3 separate regions of the Homo sapiens genome follow, and all the other regions are linked to region 3. Evidence: fine-mapped expression QTL. A gene starts in region 3. Each other region holds a variant in brackets. All regions are shown on one strand. Distances are from middle to middle.

Evidence for each region.
Region 1: its variant is fine-mapped to the expression of OTOF in testis (GTEx, PIP above 0.99).
Region 2: its variant is fine-mapped to the expression of OTOF in whole blood (TOPMed, PIP above 0.99).

Annotation. Positions count from the first base shown.
Region 1 is chr2:26,485,810-26,493,984 of GRCh38, forward strand. It overlaps OTOF (otoferlin), which reads right to left. Exons shown (of 47, transcript NM_194248.3): 10 at 3,869-3,931; 11 at 3,402-3,486. Among named protein-coding and RNA genes, the nearest start is that of OTOF, 69 kb to the right of the region's middle. RefSeq lists a silencer at 3,997-4,239 and an enhancer at 7,837-7,986. The variant C/T (reference allele first, on the strand shown) is at 3,884.
Region 2 is chr2:26,471,856-26,480,030 of GRCh38, forward strand. It overlaps OTOF (otoferlin), which reads right to left. Exons shown (of 47, transcript NM_194248.3): 17 at 7,618-7,798; 18 at 7,409-7,529; 19 at 5,794-5,894; 20 at 5,561-5,651; 21 at 5,317-5,433; 22 at 5,036-5,188; 23 at 4,273-4,462; 24 at 4,059-4,183; 25 at 3,504-3,638; 26 at 2,658-2,819; 27 at 2,136-2,255; 28 at 1,551-1,712; 29 at 1,277-1,439; 30 at 664-794. Among named protein-coding and RNA genes, the nearest start is that of DRC1, 74 kb to the left of the region's middle. RefSeq lists an enhancer at 5,704-5,893. The variant C/T (reference allele first, on the strand shown) is at 4,436.
Region 3 is chr2:26,553,852-26,562,026 of GRCh38, forward strand. OTOF (otoferlin) reads right to left here and starts at 4,905. Exons shown (of 47, transcript NM_194248.3): 1 at 4,642-4,905. The coding sequence starts at 4,720. RefSeq lists enhancers at 4,266-5,059, 5,060-5,852.

The sequences.
Region 1 (8,175 bases), 68 kb before region 3:
GTCTCAGAAAAGATAATGCCACAGTAGAGTCTGAAGAGAGGGACAAGCAAGGTGAGAGGGCAGGAAGGCACGTGGATGAGGAGTCACTGGAGAACCTCAGCCAGGCTGGCAGGCCTCCAGGGAGGGGCCATGTCCCAGGAATCCCAGGAGCTTCAGGTCTTGCCAGAGCAGATGTGTGTCGGATGAGGAGATGGACAGAAAGCTCAATGAATGGGTGCATAAATGGGCAGAGGGATGGGTGGTGAGCTGCCTGGCCGGCTGAGAGATAGACGGACAGATGGTGAATGGATTACTGGATAGAAGGAGCCATTAATCTGTGGACAGGTGGGTGGGTAGATATATGGATGGGTGGGTGGATGGGTGGATATATGGGTGGGTGGATCTGTGGATGGGTGGGTAGGTGGATGGATCTGTGGATAGATGGGTGGGTAGATATATGGATGGGTGGGTGGGTGGATGGATGGATATATGGGTGAGTGGGTGGATCTGTAGACAGGCGGGTGGGTGGGTGGATGGATTCACGGATGGGTGGGTGGGTGGACCAATGGATATATGGATTGGTGCGTGAATGGATGGATACATGGATGGGTGGGTGGATCTGTGGACAGGTGGGTGGATGGATTTGTAGATGGGTGGGTGAGTGGATGGATGGATACAGGGGTAGATGTATAGAGGTGTGCATGGTTAGATGAATTGGGGACATTTAGCAAAGAAAGAGAATACGGTTCAGGAGGAATGTAAAATTTACCTTCAAATTTAAAGGCTATTTTTCTTTTTGTCCTGAAAGAGAGACGTGTGAAAGTGGGTGAAGGTTACAGGGTGACAGATTTTGAGATGACCTAAAGAAAGTGAAGATATCTAAAATAAGAAGTAGTGAGTGCCCCATTTCTGGGAGGACTAAGCAAGGTTAGAGGACCAATCAGAGATGGTGCTGTGGGGGTCCCTACATCAGGTTAACACTTGACTCATGACTTCTGAGGCCCTTCTAGTCCTAATACTGTGTGATCTCAGGCTAGAGATACAAGGACCACATGAGATCCTGAGCTATATGCTTACCAGCCTGAAACATCATTTCACCTCCCTTCAGCCTGGGGCTGACACCTGCCAGTCAAGGGTAGCCCAGCTGGGGAAGTTGCTGCATCCCAGACCTCCTTTATGATCTATGAGGATGAGTGTATGCCCCTGACTTCCTCTATGATCTATGAGGATGAGTGTATGGCCCGTCCTCACCCCCAACAGAGAGTAGCAAACAGTAAACAGTTTCCTGATGTTGCATCTGGTGGTACAAATGACAAAATGTGGTCCTGCCAGGGTGAGAAGAGGTTCTCTCGGGAAACCCCTTCCAGTTCCAAGAGATATCGACACCACCCAAAGCTTCCCAGCAGCACCCAGGAGTGTCTCTGGGAGCATGCTGTCCAACAATGCCCTGGCTGGAACCAACGACTCATCAAGAAGTTCAGGCCAAACTGGAGATATCAGAGTAAAGACATTGGGTCTCAACTCCAGGACCCATGTGACTTCAGGCTCTCCTGTCCCTGGGAGGGCACCAGGCTCAGGGCTGGATTCAGCAGAAGCAGCAAATCTCGAGCTAGGTTACCCAAGTGGAGACCTCGGCCCACATCCTGTTTCTGCCGCTTACTCACAATGTGGCCCTGGACCAGCTGTTTAAGCCTGCTGAGCCTCAGTTTCCTTATGGTGAAATGGGAATGATGCCTATATGGGGTCGTGAGGGTGAGGCCTGCTGGGACAGTGAGCTTAGCCCAACATCTGGCACTTACTGATGCCCTGGTGGTTTCCTCACCAGGACTTTACTACCCAGAAGCCCAGAGGTCCATATTAGACTAATATCTGCCTTTTTCTCCACCCCCTGACTTTCTCTTGGCTCTCGGCCTCAGGCCTGCCAGTGGTACCAGGGCCACTGCTCAGCCCTGGGAGGAGCTTATCCTCAGGGATGCCAGTCATTCCAAGCAAGTAGTCCACGGCTATGCATGCTTCCTGGAAAGCAACATGGCAGGAGGCCGACTCTTCCCTGCTCCCCATGGCACTGATGGTCAGCAGGGCTGCCCTCCGCTGAGGGCTATGGCATGTGTGGGGTGGTGGCAAAGGCACTGGCCTGGGAGCTGGAGACAGGGGTGCTACTCCTAGATGGTGGACAAACCCCTTCATCACCTTGGGCTTCAGTTTATCTTCACAGAGGCTGGACTAGATGTTTTTCAGGTCTTGGGCAGCTTGAGTGTTCTATGATCTTGTGATTTTTATGTGTATAATCTTGGTTTTGGACTCAGATTCCCTGGTCTAAGTCATAGTTGTAATGTGCACCAGCTGGACGTCTCTTAGGTTGAACCACAAGCGATCGCCAATTTGTTCAACCTACTAGTTTAGTGGTATCTCTAAGCCCCTTCATTTCTCTTAGCCTCATTTATCTCATGTGCAAAATGGGAAGAAATGCTGCTGCCTACATTACTGTTTTGTGAGGGCCCAATGTGACAATTGGGTGAAATTATGTTCTCACTGTCAAAGCGCCTAATGGGGTCATTACAGCACTCTGAGCAGTGCATTCACTTCAGGGACACAGGGTGGTCCCTAACCTGCCCACGTGGTGAGCTGTCATCTGGCAGGCTGAGGCACTTCCTCTGCCTGGCCCACCTCACAAGCCCTCTGGGCCACCCCTTGGGGTTCCCTTGCCAACACCATTGCTGTTACCCTACAGGACGCCACGGAGCACACATGGCTGCCCAAAAGCCTGGGGCTCTTGTAAGAAGTGTTTTCAGAGACCAGAGTCCCTCAGAGGCCGCCGCACTACATCTGGCATTGACCAGCATCACCGCTTTCAGATTGGATAGTGTGGCTCAGTGAGGCTCTGGGGACACACAGCCTGACTTCACCCCCGGCCAGCTGTGTGGCTGGGGCAAGCCCTGGCTCTGAGCCTCAACTGTAAAAGGGGACGGCAGGGTCCTGTGAGGGGTGGAAAGGGGTTCTTTTCTGCTCAGCAGGTGCCAGCCCAGGAGGCAGGAGTCTGGGCGCAGCCTCTCTGCAGGCTGTGACGGGTCTCCCTCACCGCATCCTCTACCACTACTGGTCAGCCTGCCTATGGCCAGTGATGCACCAGCCTGCCATGCACTCCAGAGCGTGTGATGAAGCTCCTTCCAGGCTCTGTGCAGAGTTACTCACCTAATTATGAGTGAGAACCCACCAGACTGGGTGCGCAGTTGCTCACTGCATTTGTGTACAGACTGTGCGCGCCACTTCTCCGCAGGCCAGATGGCTGTGTGTACTAACAGTCGCCAGACTGTGGTCCTTGCCAGCCTTTTCCCAGGAACTGCCACAGTGGGAAGGGCCCCGTGCACCACGCTCCCTGAGCCATGCACACCTCGACTGACTGGCCATGCGCAGGTACTCACCTGGCTGCGAGTACACGGTTCCCACGTCCATTTTGAAGGAGCCCACCAGGGTGCCACTGCGCAGCAGGTTCTTGGAGTGAATCACCTTTCAGGCAGAACCACAGCCCACCCGTCAGGCCCAGCAAGGGTGAGGCTTTCCATGGGGCAGTGGTGGGACCCGAGCTTTGTGGTGAAGTGGGAGGGCGTTGGCAGAGTGGGGTGGCTCACTGAGGCTCAGCATCAGCTCCTCCTGCCCACGCCAGTTTCTTGCTGGCCACTGTTTACGGGCGAATGCACTATTCAGAGGCATCCAATGAAAGGGGTGGGTGGGGGCCAGAATCCAGCCTGTCCCTACTTGCCCAGCCGTGTGTCCAGGCACGGCGCTGCCTCTTTATCATGGGTCTAGACAGAGGGGGCCCCTCTCAAGTCTGCACAAAGGTGCAGTTTGAGGGAGTGGCCCTGCCGGCCAGGGGCTGCTCCCCACTCACCGAAATCTTGATGAT[C/T]TTGTCAAACATGACATCCGGAGAGACATGGAAGTCGAAGACGAAGTACTGGAGGGGGAAGGATCCAGGCCTGCTGTCACTGAGGGCAGCAGCAACAGCCCAGGCAGTGTTGGGCCCCTCCCTCCTCGCAGGGCCTGTCTGCACCCCAGACATTTGCCCTGAGCCCCAAAGTTCAGAGGAGCAGCAGAGGCAACTCATCTGATCCTGATTGACCCTGGTGGTGGGTGGTAGGAAGCAGAGCCCCATCCCCTAGGTGGGGCTGGTGCTGGCTAGTGTGGGGTGGGAAAGGAACTTGGAACAGTAGGTGGGACAGCCCATGCCCTTGTACTGTGCTCAGAAGAGGCACAGGGCCAGGGAGCAAGCAGACCTGGGTTCTAGTCCCCGCTCTGCACCTTCTTAACTGTGTGGCCTTGAGCAACACATTCTCTGAACCTCAGTTTTTTGAGCTGTGAAATGGGGATAATGACACCCACCTCAGAGTCTTGTTATGAGGCTCTGATGAGACAGTGTAACATATTTTACCAAATCTAAAGTGGCTACTGGCTGTAAGATATACTACGGTTTAATAAGCCACATGGACATTGCCATGAAGCCACAAGGCTGCCTAGGAGACACATCCCAAATTCAGAGAGGTGAAACTGTAAAATAACGCAAGCCTCAGAGCAGATGAACCATGGTGTGCCAAGCACTTAGTTGGCAGTCGATGTGAAATGCCATGGGTGTGCACTGTCCTTTGGTGCTGTGGGCTGCCATGCACATTTGCAGTCCCCATCTCTTCCCCTGGCCTGGGTGTGCAGGTGCTGAGGATGAGGGTGTGGGGCAGTGAGTAGAGGGGCTGCTGCTTTGGTGAACTGTGGTGGGGGAGAAGGGAGAAATATTTCCAATGTGCTTGGGGTAAATGTCCGAAGAGAACGTGCTCCTGGCTGCTGGGGGCTGGCCCTTGAGCACTGAGGGTAAAGCCAGCTTCAGAGCCAGCCCCACCTGGCTGTTACTGCTAGATCACTCACTTTCTTGCCTGAGCCTCAGTTTACCTATTATCCTATGAATGTGGAGATATGATCCAGGGCTGTCGTGCTGAACTGCTCCAGGGGTGCCATTCACTTGGGGGGCTTCAAGGTGTGGTTGTGAAGTTGCAATGAGACACCCTGGTCAAGTCTTTAACACAGGTGTGCACCACGGTAAGCACATAGCAAGCAGCGACAGCTGTGCATGACACTAACAGGCCCAGGGTGTGCTGGCCAGAGTTCTGAAGCTCTGGGGAGGCGGGTGGGGATATGGATTTGGGAATCGTCAGCACAAGATGGTAACTGACACCTTGGAGATGGAGGAGATACCTGGGGAGAGCATGGGAGGGGAAGCAGGCCCAGGTCAGGGCTCCAAGAAGACACAGCCTTTCAGCCAAGAAGTTAGGCCGGGGAGATGGAGCTGGAGAGACAGGGGAAGCAGGAGAGTGGCGTGAGGGGCCCCCAAGAGGAGCAGCAGGCAGCGGGATGAAAGAAACTGGGTGATCAAGGGAGAGGAGGATGACATGGACATTATACTCAGGAACAGCAATGTCCTTGGTGACCTTGAGGAGAGCAGTGTCAATGACATCTGGAGGCAGAAACCCTGCAGAGATTGAGGGGTGACTGGGGGGAGGAAGTGAGGACAACCCAAGTGGTCTGACTGTGGAGGGGTGGAGGGAAAAAGGAGGTCACTGGAGAAGTGTGTGGGAATGAGGAAAGGCCCAGAGAGAGGTGACAGACTCCTAGTTCCTGTCCTTGAGCACACATGGGTCTTCATGGTTGTACTTAGCATATGCTGGAGTAGAACACCTTATAGGCAAGGAAGAAGGGGCTGGAAGAAAAACAAAGACAGAGTTGGGCTGTGCAATGCCAGGTTCTTTGAGCTGTAGAAAGAGAAGGATCCAAGGCAAAGGGGAGAGGTGGATTTTCAGCAGGAGGAAGGATGGTGGCGCTCCCAAGATGCCCAGGGCGGGGCCAGATGCACACACAGGACACACAGGAAAGGAGCCTTAGTCTGGTTTGTGAATGGCCAGCTTGTTCCGGAAGGGCAAAGGTTTTGAGCTTCCCTGCACACAGGCAGGCTCAGGGCCAGGCAGGGTGATCAGGCCAGGTGCCCGCAGATGTGCCAGCCCCAGGGGAGCGAGCTAGCTGAGCTAGAGCCAGAATCCCGAACTCTCTGAGCTGTCTGCAATCAAATTCCTGTTATTTCCTGAGCATATTTTCCTTTTGTAATAGCTTAGATACCTAAGTCATGTTGATTGTTCCCACCTCCCTCTGTTGTTTTAATGGAGCCAAAGGAAGGTTCCTACCAGCTCAGATAATTAGTCAGAAATAATACATTCCCACGACGAGGAGGATGTCCTTCATTGAAAAGGAATGTGGCATAGAAAGAGAAGAAAAGGGAAACAAAGCTTTGGGGCTGGAAAGGCTGATTTGGGGCTGGAAGGAATCATAGTAAGATAGTTTAGAATGGTGGTCTCAACTGAGGGCGATTTCAGGGGACATTTGGCATGTCTGGAAACTTGGTAGCTGTAACTAAGGGGAGTTGCTATTGGCATCTACTGGGTAGAGGCCAGGGATGCTGCTCACATCCTACACAGCACAGGACGATCCCACCACAATTATCCAGTCCAAGATACCATAGTGCTGAGTTTGAGAAACCCTAGTTTAGAGGAAACAGAAACAAAATCAGAGCTATTTGGGTTTGTGAAAAAGAACAAAAATGTGATCAGAAACACATTTAAGATTGTCCAAAGATGAGCAGAATGAATAGTCAGTCTTAGAGGAAGTAAATAGGGAATTTAGAAAGATTCTAGGCTGAAACAAGGAGGGGACCTGCGCAGGGCGGAAACTGTGCCTCCTTCATCTCGGCAGCCTCCATGTTGCCCCACGTGCCACTGTCTGGTGTGCGGCAGATGCTCAGTGGATGTTTGTGTCTTCCTTTGGGTGAGTGTTACTGAACCCCTCCGAGTACATGCCTGGCTCTGAACAAATAGCGAGGCAGGAGACTGGGAGCCTCCAGTCCACCAGCAGGACAGAGACACGGAGGACCAACCTCAACTCCAGGACATTAACACTGCAGAGAAAGGGGAGTGCTGACCTCTGACCCAGACAGAGCAGGCAAGGCTGCTCAGTAGCAAGAACATTTGAGCTGGGCCCTGCCGGGTGAGTAGGAGTTTTCTGGGGGAGCCACAGAGTAGGGAGAGCAGCTCTGTGCCCTTGGGAAAGAGGAAGTAATTTGAATGAAAGCCAAGGTGTGTGGGCCTGGTGGAGGGAGATCCCTTAAGTTAGCAGAAGTGGCTTCACTGCTATCAAGTAACCACCGGGGCCACAGGGACCTGTCTCCATGCCTGTCTTGGGGACATAGATGCTTATCTAGGCGGAGACTTGTCCAGTCAGGATGTGTCCTAACGTAAGGCCAGAGATGTCAATCCTGAATGTCCTTGGGGCTGGAGGGGTCCTGAGCAGGTTGTCCAGCTCGGGGGGCCTGTGGGAAAGCAGCTGGGAGAGCAGAGTCAATTTGTGGTCACAAAGGAGAGTTCGGCCAGGCCTGGGCTGAAGGGCAGAGGTGGGCCTGGGTTTTCTTCCTGCAGGTGCACAGTCTGAGGACTCTCAGAGCTGCCTGAGAAATGCCCTCCCCCAAGCTACAGGGGGCACCTCAGCCCTCACCCACCTCAGGGTACGGGACTCAGCTGCCTTACTTGGGACAGCCTGGCACCCCTCACTGCCTGGAGCCACCAGGAGAAACAGACTGGGGAACCCTCCAGGAAAGGGATGGCAGGGCCCAGGCCTGTGGCTTCTGGGTTAGTCTGATGTGTGATCAGGCATCTGGGAAAGGCCTGGGCATCCTGGTGAGAAAACATTTTCAATGGTCCATTTTCAAGGCAGGATAAGTCTAAGTACTGGCATCCAACCTGCGAATGCAACAAACCACACGGCTCATGCACCTAGAAGGACACAATAAGCGAACAGAATGTAGAGGAGGGGTCAGCCCATGAAAGGGAAGAAAGTTTTGTTATTGGGAAATCGAAACTTAAGTGGGGAAATCGAAGGGGAGCGGGGTATAACCTTGTAAGGGGGAAAATGAAACTTAGGCGACGTCAGGGAAGATTGTAACCCCATAGTGCTCAACCAATGGGGAAGTGGGGGAGGGACTTGCACACTAGGAGATAAATTCCTGTTGTGACTGCCCCAGGGGTGCCTGCCTACCAGACACTCCATCTTGCAAGACCGTTATTAAAAGTCTCACTTTCGCTGTTCTTCATGCCTCTAAGTCATTCTTTGGGT
Region 2 (8,175 bases), 82 kb before region 3:
CACACATGCACATATGCACACAAGCGCACATGCACACATATATGCATATATACCACACTCATGCACATTTACCTACCACCCGCATGCATGCACACTGCACACATGCACATATGCATTTACACACCACATGCACACACATATGCACACACCACATGCACATATGCACACCATACGCATGCACACATACATGCACATGCTCATACCACATGCATGCATGCACGTGCATATGAACATACACCACACATGCATGCACATGTGCACACCACACGCACGCACGTGCATATGCACATACCCCACATACATGCACACACACATGCACATACACCACATGCATACATGCACGATGCACATATGCACACCACACATACGCATGCACGCACAAATGCACATACATCACATGCATGCACACACACATGCACATATGCACACCACACACATGCGCACACACATGCACATTTACATACCACACGCACGCGTGTGCATTCCAGGATAGTATTAGGAGGGAGCTGTTTGGACACACAATCAAGCTCAGCCCCCGACAGTCACATGCCAAAGGAGGCTCTTAGTGTCCTTTTCTCTCGGGGCAGATAGTCTGGTTCACAGGATGTGTCACACGAAGTTGCATGTTCCCAGCCAGCAGGGGGCTGACCCCACCCGCCTTACCGCGTCCAGCTTCACCATGGTCTCCAGTTTCTTGATGGGTACCTCTGGCTCCATAGTCACCACAACCTCCCCTGTGGAGTGAGAGGAGGAGCCCCCATTGCACAGCACACGGCAGCGCCGGAGAAGCCTGACTGGACAGATGGATAGATGGACAGACAGGCAGAGGAAGGAGCAAGAGGAACAGTGAGATTGGCGGGGCAGGAAGGTGCGGAGAACTAAAGCTGATTCTGGAACTTTCTGAGGGAGAGGGGGACAGGCAGTCAAGGGAGAAAATATGGGCATGGGGAGGGAAGAAGAGAGCCCGAGATAAGGGGAAGCTGCGGAGGCCGGTGGGAGGGAGGTGGCGGGGAGGCCTGGGTCTTCTCCATCAACCAGCGCAAGGGGCTTTCTGCCCTCAGGCCCCCCCAGGCTGTCTCCAGTTCTGCCCTCTCTGGCTGTAGAGCTGGCGTCACCTTGGGCAGCCTTCCTTGGCCACCAGGGTGACCTTCTTCTATGCCCACCCCCTCGGCCCCAAAGAGCAAACTCTGGTCGCGGCTTGGACTGGGCGGAGACCTGGAGCCCTTCCCTGGGGGGCGTGGAGCCAGGCTTGGTGGCAGGGTGGATGTGGCCATACCCGTGGTGTTCCAGCTGGGGGCCGAGCGGTCTGGGGGCCGGTAGATGAAGCGTCGCAGGGAGCTGACGGCATGGGAGCCCACCAGTGTGTAGCGACCGAAGGCCCGGCAGTCCACCACACGGATGTTCAAGGGCGGGTGCAGCAGCTCGTTCTCTGGGAGGTCCTGGGGTGTTGGCGACAGGAGCCTGAGCCTCCAAGAAGGGGCAGAGGAAGCCGGCTGGCTGAGTGGAGCCACACTGGCCACAGGATGTCCTCCGCCAGGGCCTGCACTCACCACTTCAAACCACTTGACGAGGGTGTTGAAGTTGGGGTTCTTCTTATAATTGTGGATCAGGGACGACTGCACCCCCTTCCCTGCACACTCGATGTCCACCCGTGGCCGGTCCACCTGGGCCAGGTTCACCCGCTTTAGGTCCCGTAGGCCCCAGAACAGCACCTGGGAGAGGTTGGAGGGTGGGTGCAGAGAAGAGAGCCCCTTAGTCAAGGGAGCCAGCCATGGGGGTGCTGGACCATCCAATAGGGAACCGGGCAGTGGGATGGGCAGTAGTTCACCCCAGATTTCAAAGGGTGGGAGCAGGGCCAGGAGAGCAGAGGAGGGGCAGGCGTTCTCCAGGGATGAGGGTGGGGCTGCCCGGAGAAGGGGTGCAGGGTCAGGGGTGCAGACAGGAGGGCTGGGCATGGTCCTGGGACATGGGAGTGCGACTTGGTGCAGATGGGGGCAGGCCCTGGGCTGGGGCAGGAGCCTGGGTCTGCTGCTGGCTCCTGGTGATGGTGGTGGGAGGGGGATGACAAGCCACTTCCCCTCCTGGGTCCTCAGACTCCTCATCCAAAAGGGAAGGGCCACACAGAGCCCTCGCACCTCCACTCGGTACTTGCTGAGCACGGGCCGGATGCCCATGGGCACGGGCATGATGGGACCTCGGTCCACGTCCACCGGGCCATTGATGGGGGGCAGGTCAGCCTTCCCTGCTGGTCCAATCTGGGGAATGGGGGTCACAGGTCACACACTGGGGAGCCCAGGGACAGGGTCTCTTTCCCCATGAGTTGTTTGCCATGATCTGGGGAGACAGGGAAACCCCCTAAGGACCACGCCCCCAGCTTTGGTCAGGATGGGTAGGAGAGAGGCCCCTAGGCCCCAGCCCCCAGGCCCCAGCTCCAGGCCCCAACCCCCAGGACCTAACGCCCAGGCCCTAACCCCCCAGGCCCCAGGCCCCAGCCCTCAGCCCCAGCCCCCAGCCCCAGGCCCCAGCCTCCAGCCCCCAGGCCCCACCCCCAGGCCCCAGACCCCAGGCCCCAGCCTTCAGGGTCCAGCCCCCAGCCCTAGGCCCCAACTCCCAGCCTCCAGTCCCCAGGCCTCAGCCCCTCTTCCCTGCAGTCCCACCTGCAGCAGCTCGAAGGCCGCCAGCAGGTCTCCAGCTGTGGCGTTGCCACGGTAGATCTGGTAGTACTCGAGCTGAGGTGGGAAGCGGGGTGGGCAGTACGCCTCGTCTGCCATCTTCACCAGGGGTTTGGCGAAGGTCCGGCCCATGAAGTCAGCTTTGCCCTGACGCAACAGACAACCCAGAAGCCTCTTGGTGCTTGCTGTCCACACCTGTGATCTCGTTTGGTCCTTACCACAGCGCCATGAGTTGTTGTAAGGGACAGGTGTGATCACCCCATTTTACAGATGAGGAAACCAAGTCTCAGGGCCCACCAAAGACTTGTTCAAGGCCAAGCAGTCAGTAAATGGCAGATGCCCGGCTCAGGACTAGACATGAGGTCCTCCTACCTCTAGTCCAGGGCTATCTGGGCACCTCAGCAGCTGAGGTGGTATGTGAGAAGGTGGCTCGCTAACTCTCGGGGGTCACCCCAATCCCTTACTCCCTGCTCCAGAACCTCCACGGAGGATGGCAAGGCTGTTACTGGTTGTGGTAGGTGAGGGCAGGGGTCGGGGAGCCCTGGGGTGGGGAGGCTAGTGACAGCAGGACTTGCTGGCACACCTCCAGGGCTCAGTCTGTAGGAGACAGGAGGTGAGGATGTGCTGGCCTGGGAAGGGGTCAGGCTGCCGCAAGCAGGCAGGAGGAGCTAGATGTCAGCCCCCACTCCCAGCTTCCCAGCCAGCACCTGGCCAAGGAGCTCTGCAGGTGGGTGGCGGAGGTGAGGGCACAGCCTCAGCGCAGGTGGAGTGCAGGGAACAAGGGCCAGGTGTGGTGCTGCTGGGGTCCCTGGCACCAGAGCCCACCCATACCATGGAATCCTGGTCATAGATTTCAATGACAATGATGGGCGGATCGTCCCTCAGCTCATGAGCTTCACCATAGAGCTCCAGGTTGTCGAACACCAGCATCTGGTCCCAGGTGGGACACAGGGTCTCATTCAGCACCTGCAGCATGGGATGGGGAGACAGGGGACAAGTGACAGAGGGGGGGGCAGATGCACAAACAGAAGCCACCCCTACTCACTCAGCTTCCACGGAACCTGGGGGCAGGAGTGACAGGTGTCTTGATTCTTCCAGAAATCTTAAAATCAAGGCTAATATGAGGTTTGGCCCAAGCCCCCTGCCAATGTCCTCCTTGTCGTCCCTGTCTTGTGAATATAACCACAGCTAAAGCCCGTAGCCTTTCCAGTGTGACCCGCGTCTGCTGCAGTTATCTGCAGGGCTTCCCCTGAGAAACCGGGGCACTGGCTGACCTGTGGCTCCAGGCCCCACAGGCTCACAGGCCCCACAGGCTCCAGTCCCCACAGGCTCACAGGCTTCTGGTGCTCTCAAAGCCAGAGCCACTCCCTCCTCCCAGGCCCTCACCTCTGTGCACTGACTCTGATTGATGAAGAAGACGCGGGCAAAGGGGTCTGAGAGTCCGCTGCTGTCGGCGGCAAAGAGGCTGCGGGCCTGGTACATGTGCGCTCGGAGCTGGAACGCCTGCTTCTCTGTGGGGAAGGGCAGCCTGAGGTTCCAGGATGGGCAGCCCCTCCGGCCCCCTCCCAGGTGAGGCTTCGAGTGAGGGGTCCTCACTCACTGGTGTAGACCAGGCTGACGGGTGGGAAGGCATGCAGGCCCAGGCCCTGGGCTGCCTTGACCTCCTGGAAGCCACAGGGCAGGCCGCACAGGAACTCCTTGCGCTGTTTGCTGAGGCCCAGCCACAGGTACAGCTCCACCTTGGCCTGCACTGTCCAGCCTGC[C/T]GAGCCGAAGCCCCGCTTCCCTGGCAGCTGGGGGTGGGCATGGGGTCACCAGGAGCCTGACGGCTGCCAGGGCCCAAGAGGTGGGGAAGGGGCAGGGGCCGGCAGAGGCCCTGGTCAGAGCTGCCCTGCCCCTTCACAGCCATCCCGCTGGGCTGGGGTCCGGTGGAGGCAGGAGGATGGGCAGGGGGCCGTCATGCCCCCTTCCCCACCCCTTCCCCCACCTCCTTCCCCACCCCTTCCCCCACCTCCTTCCCCACCCCTTCCCCCACCTCCTTCCCCACCCCTTCCCCCACCCCTTCCCTCACCCCTTCCCCCACCTCCTTCCCCACCCCTTCCCCCACCCCTTCCCCCACCTCCTTCCCCACCCCTTCCCCCACCCCTTCCCCCACCCCTTCCCCCACCTCCTTCCCCACCCCTTCCCCCACCCCTTCCCCCACCTCCTTCCCCACCCCTTCCCCCACGTCCTTCCCATTCTTGGCTCTTCTCTGAGCACCTGCTGCTTGAAGGCCCCACCCTGTCACTCAGGCTTCCAGCCCCAGGTGGGGGCTGCTGCTCCCCTGAAAGGACCCAGGCCCCCATCCATCCTGCCCCCTCCAGCACCTTAAGGAAGAGCGTCTTGACCTTGGCGCAGTCCTTGCCAGTCTCCTCCTCCACGATGGAGAAGAGCAGGTCCTTGGAGGGCACACGGGCATAGGCGACACGCTTGTTGTTGCTCATCATCCAGATGAAGATGTCGGGAATGCTGTGCTGGGGCTGGGGGTTGGGGGGTGGCCAGGGGCAGTGGGTAAGGGGGTCTAGCCTCCTGATTGAGCCCCCTGATCCTGAGGGGCCCCAGAGAGCCAGCCCTGGATGAGGCAAAGCCCCGACCCCTTGGGCCGCACCTCGTCCGCCAGGAAGCGCAGCTTCTGCAGGAAGTTCTGGCACAGCCTCAGCTTGTCCCGCACCGTGTGCCGCTTCACCTGGGCCCGCAGCATCCTGGCCTGCTGCCCCATGTTTTCCTGCGAAGGAGGGGGTGTCAGTGAACCCAGCAACTGGGGGACAGCTCGGGCCATGACAAAGGGGGTTGTGACACCTTCTCACAACCAGGCCCTCCCTCCAGCCCCCGCCGTCCAGTTGCGTCCTCACCAGCTCCCTCATGCAGGACTTGAGGCGCTCCCGGTCAAGCCTGGTGCGGGATGAGTGGCCCTGGTCCTTGTCAGCGAGGGAGAGGAAGCGGCTGGGGGTAGGGCGAGCCGGGGTTTAGCGAGCCTGACCAGCAGGGGCTCTGTAGATTCTTCCTCATCTGCCCAGCCCTGGCAGGGTCCCCTTTGTCCAGTTCCGCCTCATCCTCCCCCCACCTGCCGCCCCTCCCTTCTCACCAGCAGCCACAGCTCAGCTCCTCCAGGACGCCCCGCAGGCGACGCTCAGGGTAGGACTTCTCCGTTTTGATCATCTCCTGTATGTCGTTCAGGCCTTCTTCCTGTGAATCAGGAGTGTGGGTGATGCTGGGCCACAGCCCCGCCTCCCCAGCCTCCCCAAATGCCTCCTCCCTGTTGATCAGGGGAGTGAGGGACCTCATGATCTGGGAGCTCTCGCTAGGGCCATCCTGAGTATCGGTCATCATGAGGAAGTCATCAATTTCCCAGGTTCTGTTCTCAGAACCTGGAGATGTTGGTGTTCATGGGGGTTCTTCAGTTCCTGAAGGAAGAAGCCACCTCTGGGCTGTGAGTCTGTGGCTCTGGTGAGCTCACAGGGCCTGGGCAGAACTCACGGCTACGGGGCTCAGGGCTGGCCAGAGACAGAGGGAAACCCTAGGACTGGATGTGCCAAGATCCTGACGTCACTCCAGAATGCTGGAGCCTGTGGCAGGGGATGGGAACAGATGCCTGGGGGAAGAGGGAGTGGCTCTGGCTCTGAGAGCACTGGGAGGGCTGTGAGACCCAGGTCCCACAGGAAACACAGGTCAGCTTGTACCCCAGCTCCTTAGGGGGAAGCCTTGCAGATAACTGCAGACCCAGGTCACACTGCAAAGGCTATGGGCTTTAATTGTGGTTATAGTCACAAGACAGGGATGACAAGGAGGACATTGGCAGGGGGCTGGGAGCAGACCTCATATTAGCCTTGATTTTTTTGGAGGTTTTAATTCATTTTTATAAAATATGAGCTGGCTGAGCTTCAGGGAACTTCAACAGGGAACAGCAACAGCTCAGGGAAGGGCGGGATTATCTGCTGGTCCCTGCTTCCCCAGGCTGGGGAGAAGGAGGTCTCATGCCAACAGCTGCACTCCTCGCCCAGTCAGTGCCCATGGCTCATGGGGGGAGAGGGGTGGGCAGAGGAGGAGGGGGCAGCTCCTGAGCTTCAGACACTGCTCGCTTCTCCCTTTTCCCCATTTCCCTTCCCTAGCCTTGCTTTTTTATTTTGTTTTATTTTATTTTATTTTATTTTTTGAGATGAAGTTTTGCTCGGTTGCCCAGGCTGGAGTGCAGTGGCGCCATCTTGGCTCACTGCAAACTCCGCCTCACGGGTTCAAGCGATTCTCCTGCTTCAGCCTCCCGAATAGCTGGGATTACAGGTGCCCGCCACCAAGCCCCGCTAATTTTTGCATTTTTAGTAGAGACGGCATTTCACTATGTTGGCCAGGATGGTCTCGAACTCCTGACCTCAGGTGATCCACCTGCCTTGGCCTCCCAAAGTGTTGGGATTACAGGCGTGAGCCACCACACCTGTCTCCCTAGCCTTGCTTTTAAGATTTCTGGAAAAATCAGGGAACCCAACACTCCTGCCCCAGGATTCACTGGAGGCTGAGTGACTAGAGGTGGCTCCTGTCCTTGTCTGTGCCCTGGGACCTGGGGCTGAGAATGGGAACAGAGGTCCTGCTGGGGCCGTTCCTGCAGCCCCCTGGGCAGACCAGCTTTGTGTGTTCCAGGGAAGGCCCTCTGACAGCGCCGTCTCCCCCAGGACCCCACCCCTGCTGGCCCCTGGCCTGGCCCTGACCAGCTTGTCGGCAATGTGGTCCATGATGTTGGCATTGTAGAGGCGGCGGCGCTGGTCCGGCCACCAGCTCTTGATGTAGATGCAGGGCTTTCGCTCCAGGTAGGGCAGATGGAAGTAGTTCCTGGGGTGGGCAGAGGCGGGAGGTGAGGTCTTGGGGGCCCAGGGAGGTGGGAGGGCCAGGCCACAGGAGGATGGGAGGCTGGGCCCACCTGTCGGTGACCTGGGGCCGCATTGGTGGAGTGGAGGAGACTGAGGCCAGGTCCCCGGCATCACCGGCCTCGTCATCACTTGCGTTCTGAATCAGGTCTACTTCTTCCTCATCCCCCGGCTCCTTCCGGGGCCGAGGCCGCTGGGGCCGGGACAGGCCATCAACTTCGTTCCCATAGTTGCCTGGAGCAGAATGGGCCCAGAAGGCCTAGAGTGCATTCCCCACCAGGCCCCTCCCACCGTCCAATCCGGTGCTGCCTTGGGTTTGGGAAAGGGGAGAGGGAGAGTCAGGGAATGGGGCTCAGACGTGACACATCATTAGCCAGAGAGCATTAGCCCGTGTCCCCACTCCGCTGAGAGTCAGGGAGTCCTCATGACGCCTGAGTGCGAGGCCCAGCCCTGGCCCAGGCTGTGGCCTGAGTTCCCACTCTCTCCTCTCCAGCCCCGGGAAGGGCTTCTCCCTGCCCTCTGCCCCAGGTCCCAAACACAGCCTCACCCTGTAGGTGGAGCTGAGGGTTGGCCCCTTTATGGGGCGTGGTCCACCCCATGCACACACAAAG
Region 3 (8,175 bases):
TATGGGCTGGAGCTGAACTTGCTAATATTTGTTAGGCTTGACTGGGCGCAGTGGCTCACACCTGTAATCCCAGCACTTTGGGAGGCCGAGGCAGGCGGATCATGAGGTCAGGAGTTTGAGACCAGCCTGGGAAATATGGTGAAACACCGTCTCTACTAAAAATACAAAAATTAGTCGGGCATGGTGGCGTGTGCCTGTAGTCCCAGCTACTCCAGAGGCTGAGGCAGAAGAATCGCTTGAACCCAGGAGCTGGAGGTTGCAGTGAGCCGAGATCGCACTGCACTGCACTCCAGCCTGGCGACAGAGCGAGACTCAAAAAAAAAAAAAAAAAAAAAAATCGTTAGGCCCCTCTGGAGCCCTAGAAGATTCTCTGGGTTAGGGAAGTTGATGGAAGGAGTAAGAGCCAAGGTTCTTGGTTCTTGGCCCTTGAGGCCTCTTCCAGTCCCTTGATCCTCCTTGGATAGAAAGTTCTGGGGTGAGAGCTCACAGTTGGGGAAATGGAGCCAAAGAGTGACAGTGCCACAGTGGAAGAACTCAAACCCATGACACAGTGAATCCCTCAAAGACAGAAACCATGTCTGATGTCTGTCCTGAAGATGCTCAAAAGCTTGGGCAGCATGCAGAGGTGTGGCCAGTTTCTGAAATGCAATGTACCTTGGCAGAGCAGTAGGAAGAATGTGTGCAAAGTACTGCTAGAGGAGTACTTTGTGTGCAAAGTACTACTCCTTCATGGAGGAGGTAGCATATGAGCTGGGCCTTGAAGGATGAGCAGAATTAATGGGCGTTCTCAAGGTGGAGGGTGGTCATTCCAGGCAGAAGAAATATGATCGATGTCTCAAAGTTTGGAGGTGTAAAAGGGTGTGGTATCTTTTGGGAATGGCTGGAAGTTGAATGTAGTGGGAACATAGCAGGGTGGGAATCAGGGGGAGGGTGGGAAGAAGAGTAAGAATGAAAAGGTGGAGGGGGATGCCCTGCAAACCTTTGTGCCAATTTCCAGCCACAGTGAATTATGTGGAAGCCAGATCCAGCCTTTAGATGTTCTTATCTCACACAGAAAATCCCCAAACCTCATGTCTTGGCAAGAAGGCTCAGGGGATAGAAAGAGAAGGGAGACATCAGGGTTGGCCCTGGACTGTCTGTCACTTGGTTCCCTTACAGTCCAGGTCCCCCAGCCTTGGTGCTCAGCACTGGACAGAAGGTTGGACTAGAAGAACTTCGGGACCCTTCACACCCTGCGTTCTGTGGCTCTGTGATTGATGTAGGGAACTATCTCAGGAGTTGATAAAGGAAATACCTGAAGCTAATACTTCCTCTCTTTGAGTAGCAACCTGTGGTCAAGATGGCTCCTTCTTAGATAGCCCACTCTTGATTACTCCTGGGAACTGCAGGCCTCTGAGCTAAATGAGGACCACTGTCTCCATTTTGTTAATGAGAAACCCAGCTGAGCCCTGTGGCCTGCAGGCACAATAGAGATTCGCCCAGGACTCCCTATCTCCTGTCTGACCCAATGGGATTGTGACTCCTGGAGGGCCAGGCTGGCCCCTTCACCTCAGGGTCCCAGGCCTGTGCACAAATATTAGCATGTTCAGGAAATGCATGAACAGGGCAGCACCAGCTTAGGAGCAGCCAGGGGCAGTAAGAACTAAGAGCTAGATACAGAACTGGCTGGGAGCACTGACCGAGGGGCCGACTGGCCTGAGGGCAGTGGGAAAAGAGGTGGCCACGGGCAAAGCTGGTGCACACCCAGCCAGATGAGAACAGGAGTCTCGGGGGTCTGCCTGCCTGGGTTCCTGCGGAACATCTCAGCAGAGGCTCCTACAGAGCAGAGTCCAGGCTCTCTGCCTTCTCCTGGCAGACTGGAACCCCTTAGACGTGCTCTCCTCTTCCCTTTATATCTCACATGGGGCCCTCTGCTGGTCTGGAGAGAAGATACCTCAGGGGCCAGCAGCTGCTCCCAAGGAGAATGGGAATGGCTGCCTCACAAACACATCGACCATTTGAATACTCTTCCCACAAACTCTTCCATACCTATGGTTTCCCTGAAGCAATCTAGTGAAGTGAGTGTTATTATCATGCCCATTTTACAGATGAGGAAACTGAGGGTGAGTGGCAGAACCCAGGTAGGATCTAGGGCTTCTGACTCCATATCCAGAACTTTTTCCACAATAGCCCAGGAGGGCTCTTTCCTTAGTGTCTTGGATGGCACAGCACAGAAGGTCAAGCCATATTTCAACCAGCTGCTCTGGCCTACCTAGGGCCACTGCCAATGGGCACAGCTCACCAAGGGCTCCCTCACCACCTCCCCCGGCATTGACTTTCACTCAAAAGCCTTGGGGAGCCTGGGGCCAGTGTCTCCCTCTGCGTGTTTACCAGTTTCTTGTTTCCCCCTGCAGAGGACTTGCTTGGCCCCCAGTGGTTGCATGTGCTGGGAGATGCTAAGGAACATTGTAGAGCGGGTCCATTCCCTCTGAATTGTGGTCAGTGTTGGTCTTTTGGGGCGCCTACAACTGTGAACTGCTAGATGACACAGGTGAGCGGCTGAGGCATCTTTCGTTGTAATAAAGGTACTTTCTGGAAACTGCTTGTCATCTGCCTATTCCTGCTGCCCAGCCCCCTTCCCCAGGAGCTCTGCCCATGGCCACCTCCTGCCAATGTGGAGCTTGGAAGCGATTTCTCCACTCAGTCCAGAGAGCAAGGGTTGCAAATAAACTAATTCCTGTGTGGTCAGTGAGGCTAAAGGCCCAGCCCTTCACTGCTCCAAGGAGAAGATGGGTGTCAGACAAGGTGCTGGCCCCCAGGTGGCCCAGGAGCAGATAAAGAGCTTGCAAGATTGAGTACTCAGGATGAGGTCCTGAGAGCTGGGACCACCGTGCCTCAGCTCCTCCGTGAATGCCACGCGCAGTGTTCTACCCCTGAACCTTGGTTTCTCGGCCTGCAAGTGGGCCTGTCCGGTGCAGCCTGGACCGTTCCAGCACAGCTGCAGCAGGATGGCAACCTGTAGCTTAACCGCCCCACACTATGCTGCCCGTGGAGCTCAGGGCCACATTTCACAGATGAAAGGACACATTTGCTTTTTCTAAAGCCAGCATGAGCCTGCAGGTGGCACACAGAGGGAGATCCAGGGTGCTGCAGAGAAAGCAGTCAGTGGGTTGGGGTGGGAGGCAAAAGGCAGCCCAGCCCACACCTCCCTCTCCCTCCTGCCTAACCTCCGCCTGCCGGCAGGGCCACTGCCATCACCTCCACCCCTGCCTGTCCCTATGAACACAAGCTGCAATGTGGGCATCCCAGGGCCTCTGGGTAGGTGATGTGGGTGCCCCAGGGCTCTTGCTGGAATGTTCTGCCAATGGTCTCTCCCATCCCTTCCAACAGAGGTGCAGACACTGTGTCCAGCCTGGGCCCCAAGGCTCACTTTGCTCTTTAGTATAGGGGGGTCCTCTCTGCCCCCTTCTCACCACCTCGTCCCCATCCCACTCTCAGACCCCTCTCTCGGGAGAAGGGGCCATGTCTAGTGAGAAGTACCCCCAACCCTCAGGGCTGGGCAGCAACCACATGGAGAGGCAGAGGTGGGTGGTGAAGGACAGAGTCAGCCTGGCCCTGCCTTTCCCCACTTAAAATGCTCAGGGGCTCCGCTGTCCCCGGGGTCAGGTCCAGCCTCGCCTCCTTGCCCTGCTTGGCTCTCTGGCCTCCGCTCCTGCACCCTCTCTGAGCTGTAGACACATGGAACCTCTTTCAGTTCCAGAGTTTCAGCTCCTCTCTCAGCTCTGGGCACACTGTTTCCTCTGCCTCCTCAGTCCTTACCTCCTCTCCTAGCTCCCACCCGCTGGTCCTTCGGGTATTAGCTGAGTGTTACTTCCTCCGGGAAGCCTTCCCTGACCACCGGTCACCAGCCTGGGTGAGGGTGCTGCTTCTGTAGCTTGCATGCTGCACCCCCACCTTCTGTCTCACATACCTGTCCTGCTTGTTCCACGCCTGCCCAACAGATGCAGGCTCCTTGGGGCTGGGGCTGGGTTGTGCTCAGCTCTGTGTTTCTACCCCTATCCTTGGGACACAGTAGATCATAATAAATGGTCGCTGAATACAGGAGTGAAAAGGATGAGAAAAGACCAGACAGAAGAGAGGCGAGGGGCTCCCGGGGTTCCCGCCCATGAATAGATCTAAAAGAAGCCAACAGTGTCCCCCATCACTCTGGGGCCCAGGGAGCTACTGGCTGCCTGGTTTCTCCCAGTCACCCTGGGTGCCCCAGGCTCCATACCCGGCCCCCACCCTGTGCTCAAGGAAATCAACCTGCAGGAGAGGGAGAGAGAGAGAAGGAGGGGGTCCTGGGTCTCCCTGAGCTCAGGGATGTGGTCCTCACTTCTGCCTCCCCAGGCAGAGGGCTCTGTGCCCTGCCCGGGGAACTGGCATGTTGGCAAGCACAAGGAGACACAGGCATGGAAGAACAGGGGACCCTGATTTTCCAGAAATCACAATGGCCAGTCAGTCCCAGGCAGATGACTACCTGTGAAAAGGCTCGTCGCCCCAGCCCCTGCTAGAACTTTTCCCACCCATCCTCCCAGCCCTGTCCTATCCCCGGCCACCTCCAGAGCATGGGCTGGTCCAGCTCTCAGAGCTGGCGTCCCTCTGAGACAGCGGCTTCCCTACCTCGGAAAGTCACTTTGGCGATCCGGTCGCCCCTGCCCCGCAGCTCCGAGACTGTCTTGAGGTGGATGAGCAAGGCCATGCTGGTGTGGGCTGCCTGGCACTGCCAGGCAGGAGCAGCGGGAAGGAGCTAGCCGGTGGAGCACGGCTCACACGCCTCTCTCTTCTCTGCCGCTGCCTCCTCCTCCTCCTCCCGACCCCCCTCCGATGCTGCCCACAGAGACCAAGGCAACCAAGCCGAGCTAAGCTGCTCCTGCAGCGACTCACAGAGCCTCACAGCCCCCGCCCCTCCAAGTTGTCAGCCCAGCGTGTGTGTATCGGTGTGTGCGTGTGTGTGTGTGTGTGTGTGCACCCAATGTGCAGCCTGGGAGTGCGGCAGAGTTGGAATTCATTATTCAGCAGCCGCCGGCTCCCAGATAAAGCTCTGTCCAGCTTCAGGTGTCTTCTCCCAGCTCCTGGAAGGGAGGCTCTGCCCACCCCTCTGCAGGGCTCTGCTGCTTCCCTGCTAAGCAAGCCCTGCCACCAGTAGTGGGCACAGAGGAGTGGGCATGAGCATAGGTAGGGTGGATGTGGGGCGGGGGGCACTCCCACCCACAGGGGCACACTACAAGAAGAAGGGAATGTATTTGTCCACCTACGCCCACCTCTTCCCTGCTGGAGACTGTGCCCCCAAGAGGCTGGGCCCTGAGCCCTGCCCTGGGATCCCTGTTTCTGAATCTCAGGAAGCAGAGAGGCTGGGGCTGCTGCCTGAGGGGAGGCTCAGGACCAGGCCATGCATGATGGAGATGGCTGGTTGTGGAGGCAGCAGAGGCTTATGTGCTACCAGGGGCCATGTTTAAGGATCCAGGGCACTAACCTAGCCCCACCCCAAGGCTGGGGGTCAGGCAGGCTAGCGAAGGTAAGCCAGGCTGATGTTTGCTTTCCAGCCAGAGGAGCAGAATTGAATGGCCTTCTGCTGTTATAAGCTGCTAGGGGCAGGAGAAGGGATGTCTATAGGGAAATTTCTAAGGACCAAAAGAGAACTGCCCCCTCCTGTCTTCCAGCAGCATACACCAAGGAAAGGGACGCTGGGGGCCAGAATCCCTGATGCTGGAATCTGTGCAGGGTCATCTGCAGCCTTGTTCTTGCTATTCATTCTTGGTGGAATGCCCTCCACCCCACCCTGGACTCAGCTTGAGTGCCTGCTCCTGGAGGTGCCTCTGTACCCGCACCCCAGCTGGGTTGGGGTCCTCCTCTGTGCTGCTCCTGCCTCCTCTCATCTTACTGAGTCCTGGGGCTGCTTCCCTTGCCTTTTCCCCTCCTGACCTCAGGAGGGCCCTGGAGCACAGCATCCCTCTACCCCAGAGCCCCACATGGTATCCTGTGCACCGTAGGATGCCCAATTACTGTTGAAAGGATAAAAGAGTGAGCTCAGGGATCTACCTGAAACAGAGTCTAAAGGTTAAAAAGAGAAATACTAATTTTTCACAGCATGGTAACAAGAGGTTACTTCTTTTGAATTCTGCATTCCAAATAACCTACAGTATGTCCCAAGAGCCTTCTTTCCTCCTTCTAGATATTTCCTTGCTACTGTGCCCTATTTTTCTTTTTCTACTTACGTTTTTTTCCTTTGCACTTTTTCCTAACCAATTCTTGCTTACCTTTCTCACATTTATCTAATCATATTGAATTTAAAAATGTCTTAGAGTATTCTGTTTATTGAATACAAGTATGAATGCTAAATTTTCAAAAGCTAGATAAGTTTAATGTCTTAAAAAAAAAAACACCTAAATTCACTAGCATTTTCCATCCATGAGGTCATCAGGTGATCTGTGTTTTTAAGGCTTGGTGACTACAAGGTACAACAACAACAACAGAAAATATCTTCTTCCTTGGTTCTCTGGAGGTCCTCCCCTGAAAGGAGTGAATTTCATGAGGCCTCTTATAGACCCTGTGCATCTTTAGGAAAAAGCCCATGATCCTGCCCTAGCCAAGGCATTGATCTATGCTGAATCTCACTTTCCACATCCATAAAATGGTAGCAATTCCACTCAGCAGCTCTCAATGGAGTCAGCTGGCCTTTCTGAAAACCTAAGAGACAGATCCCACTCTTTTTTTTTTTTTTTTTTTGAGAGAGAGTCTCACTCTGTCACCCAGGCTGGAGGGCAGTGGAGTGATCTAGGCTCACTGCAACCTCTGCCTCCCGGGTTCAAGCGATTCTCCTGCCTCAGCCTCCCAAATAGGTCAGACTATAAGCATGTGCTACCATGCCCAGCTAATGTTTGTATTTTTAGTAGAGATGGGGTTTCACCATGTTGGCTAGGCTGGTCTCAAACTGCTGACCTCAAGTGATCCGCCTGCCTCGGCCTTCCAAAATGCTGGGATTACAGGCATGAGCCACCGTTCCCAGCCAGAACCCACTTTTTAATTTCCATTCTTCTGTTACCCATTTTGGTAACTGAGTATATAATTTATGTAATGAACATTTACTGAATTCTTTCCAGAGCCAGGTGCTGAGATTCAGGGATGAATATGATATGGATGGCACAGGATCCCAATCAGACGAGACAGATGGACTAGAACACAGGCAGGTGGAAGGCAGGGTGGTGGGTTTACCAGCAGGACTGGCTGGGCAGCCCTGAATGGGGGAGGAAGTAGGCGGTCAACCTCACCAGGGCTGGGGGTCTTTGACTCATGTTTTCCTTATTGTAGAACATGTTCCCCAATGAGAATTTAGAAAAATACAGACATGACTGCATTCTGAAGGATGGATGGATTTTCCTTCCACCCAGTTTGTTTGCAGCCGTTCCTTTGCCTACAGCTCTCTTTCCAACCAGGCCTCAGTGTTTCTGCTTCCTGAGCCTCTGGGAAGCCTGTGGCTCCCCTTCATTTCATTGGCATTTGCCAGGGGAAGTCTTTGGAGAATGCTGGTGGCAGCCACATTCTGTGAACCCAGTAGCGTCTGCGGTCTTCATCCACTGCCATTTACAGAACCGAAGTGCGAGGGGAGCACTGCTCTCCATCCGGCATCTGAAGGGAAGAAGCAAGACCTGGAGACAAAGTGGGAACTGCCAGGCTTCTTCATGACACCAGGACTGCTGCAGAGGGAGCTGGGGTGGCAGGGCCTCCACCCGAGTCACCAAGAGCCTGGCACCGTGGAAGCTGTCCCCATACCCTCACCCCTTATGGAAAAGCCGAAGGCCCTGTGCCTGCCCTAGGCACCAAGGCTGGTGTAAGGGTCCCTGGAGAAACTCAAATGTGGAGGCTGAAGCAGTCACAGGGAGGATTACACAGGGGGTGGGCCTTCAGCAGGCCTGCTCTCTGGGGCAAGCGCTACCCCTGCGGATGCCATCCCCAAAATGAACGGCAGCATTGGGGACAAATGTAAATCACACACCCAGACGTTCTATGATTTTCTTTTTGCCTCTTGTGGAGTAGTTTACAGGTATGATGAGGTGAGAAGGAAGCCATCAGCTAGAGATTAAGAAGAAAAATGAAAAATGCTCCTCTTCGCAAGGCGCGCACACACACACGCACACATGCACGCACGCACGCACA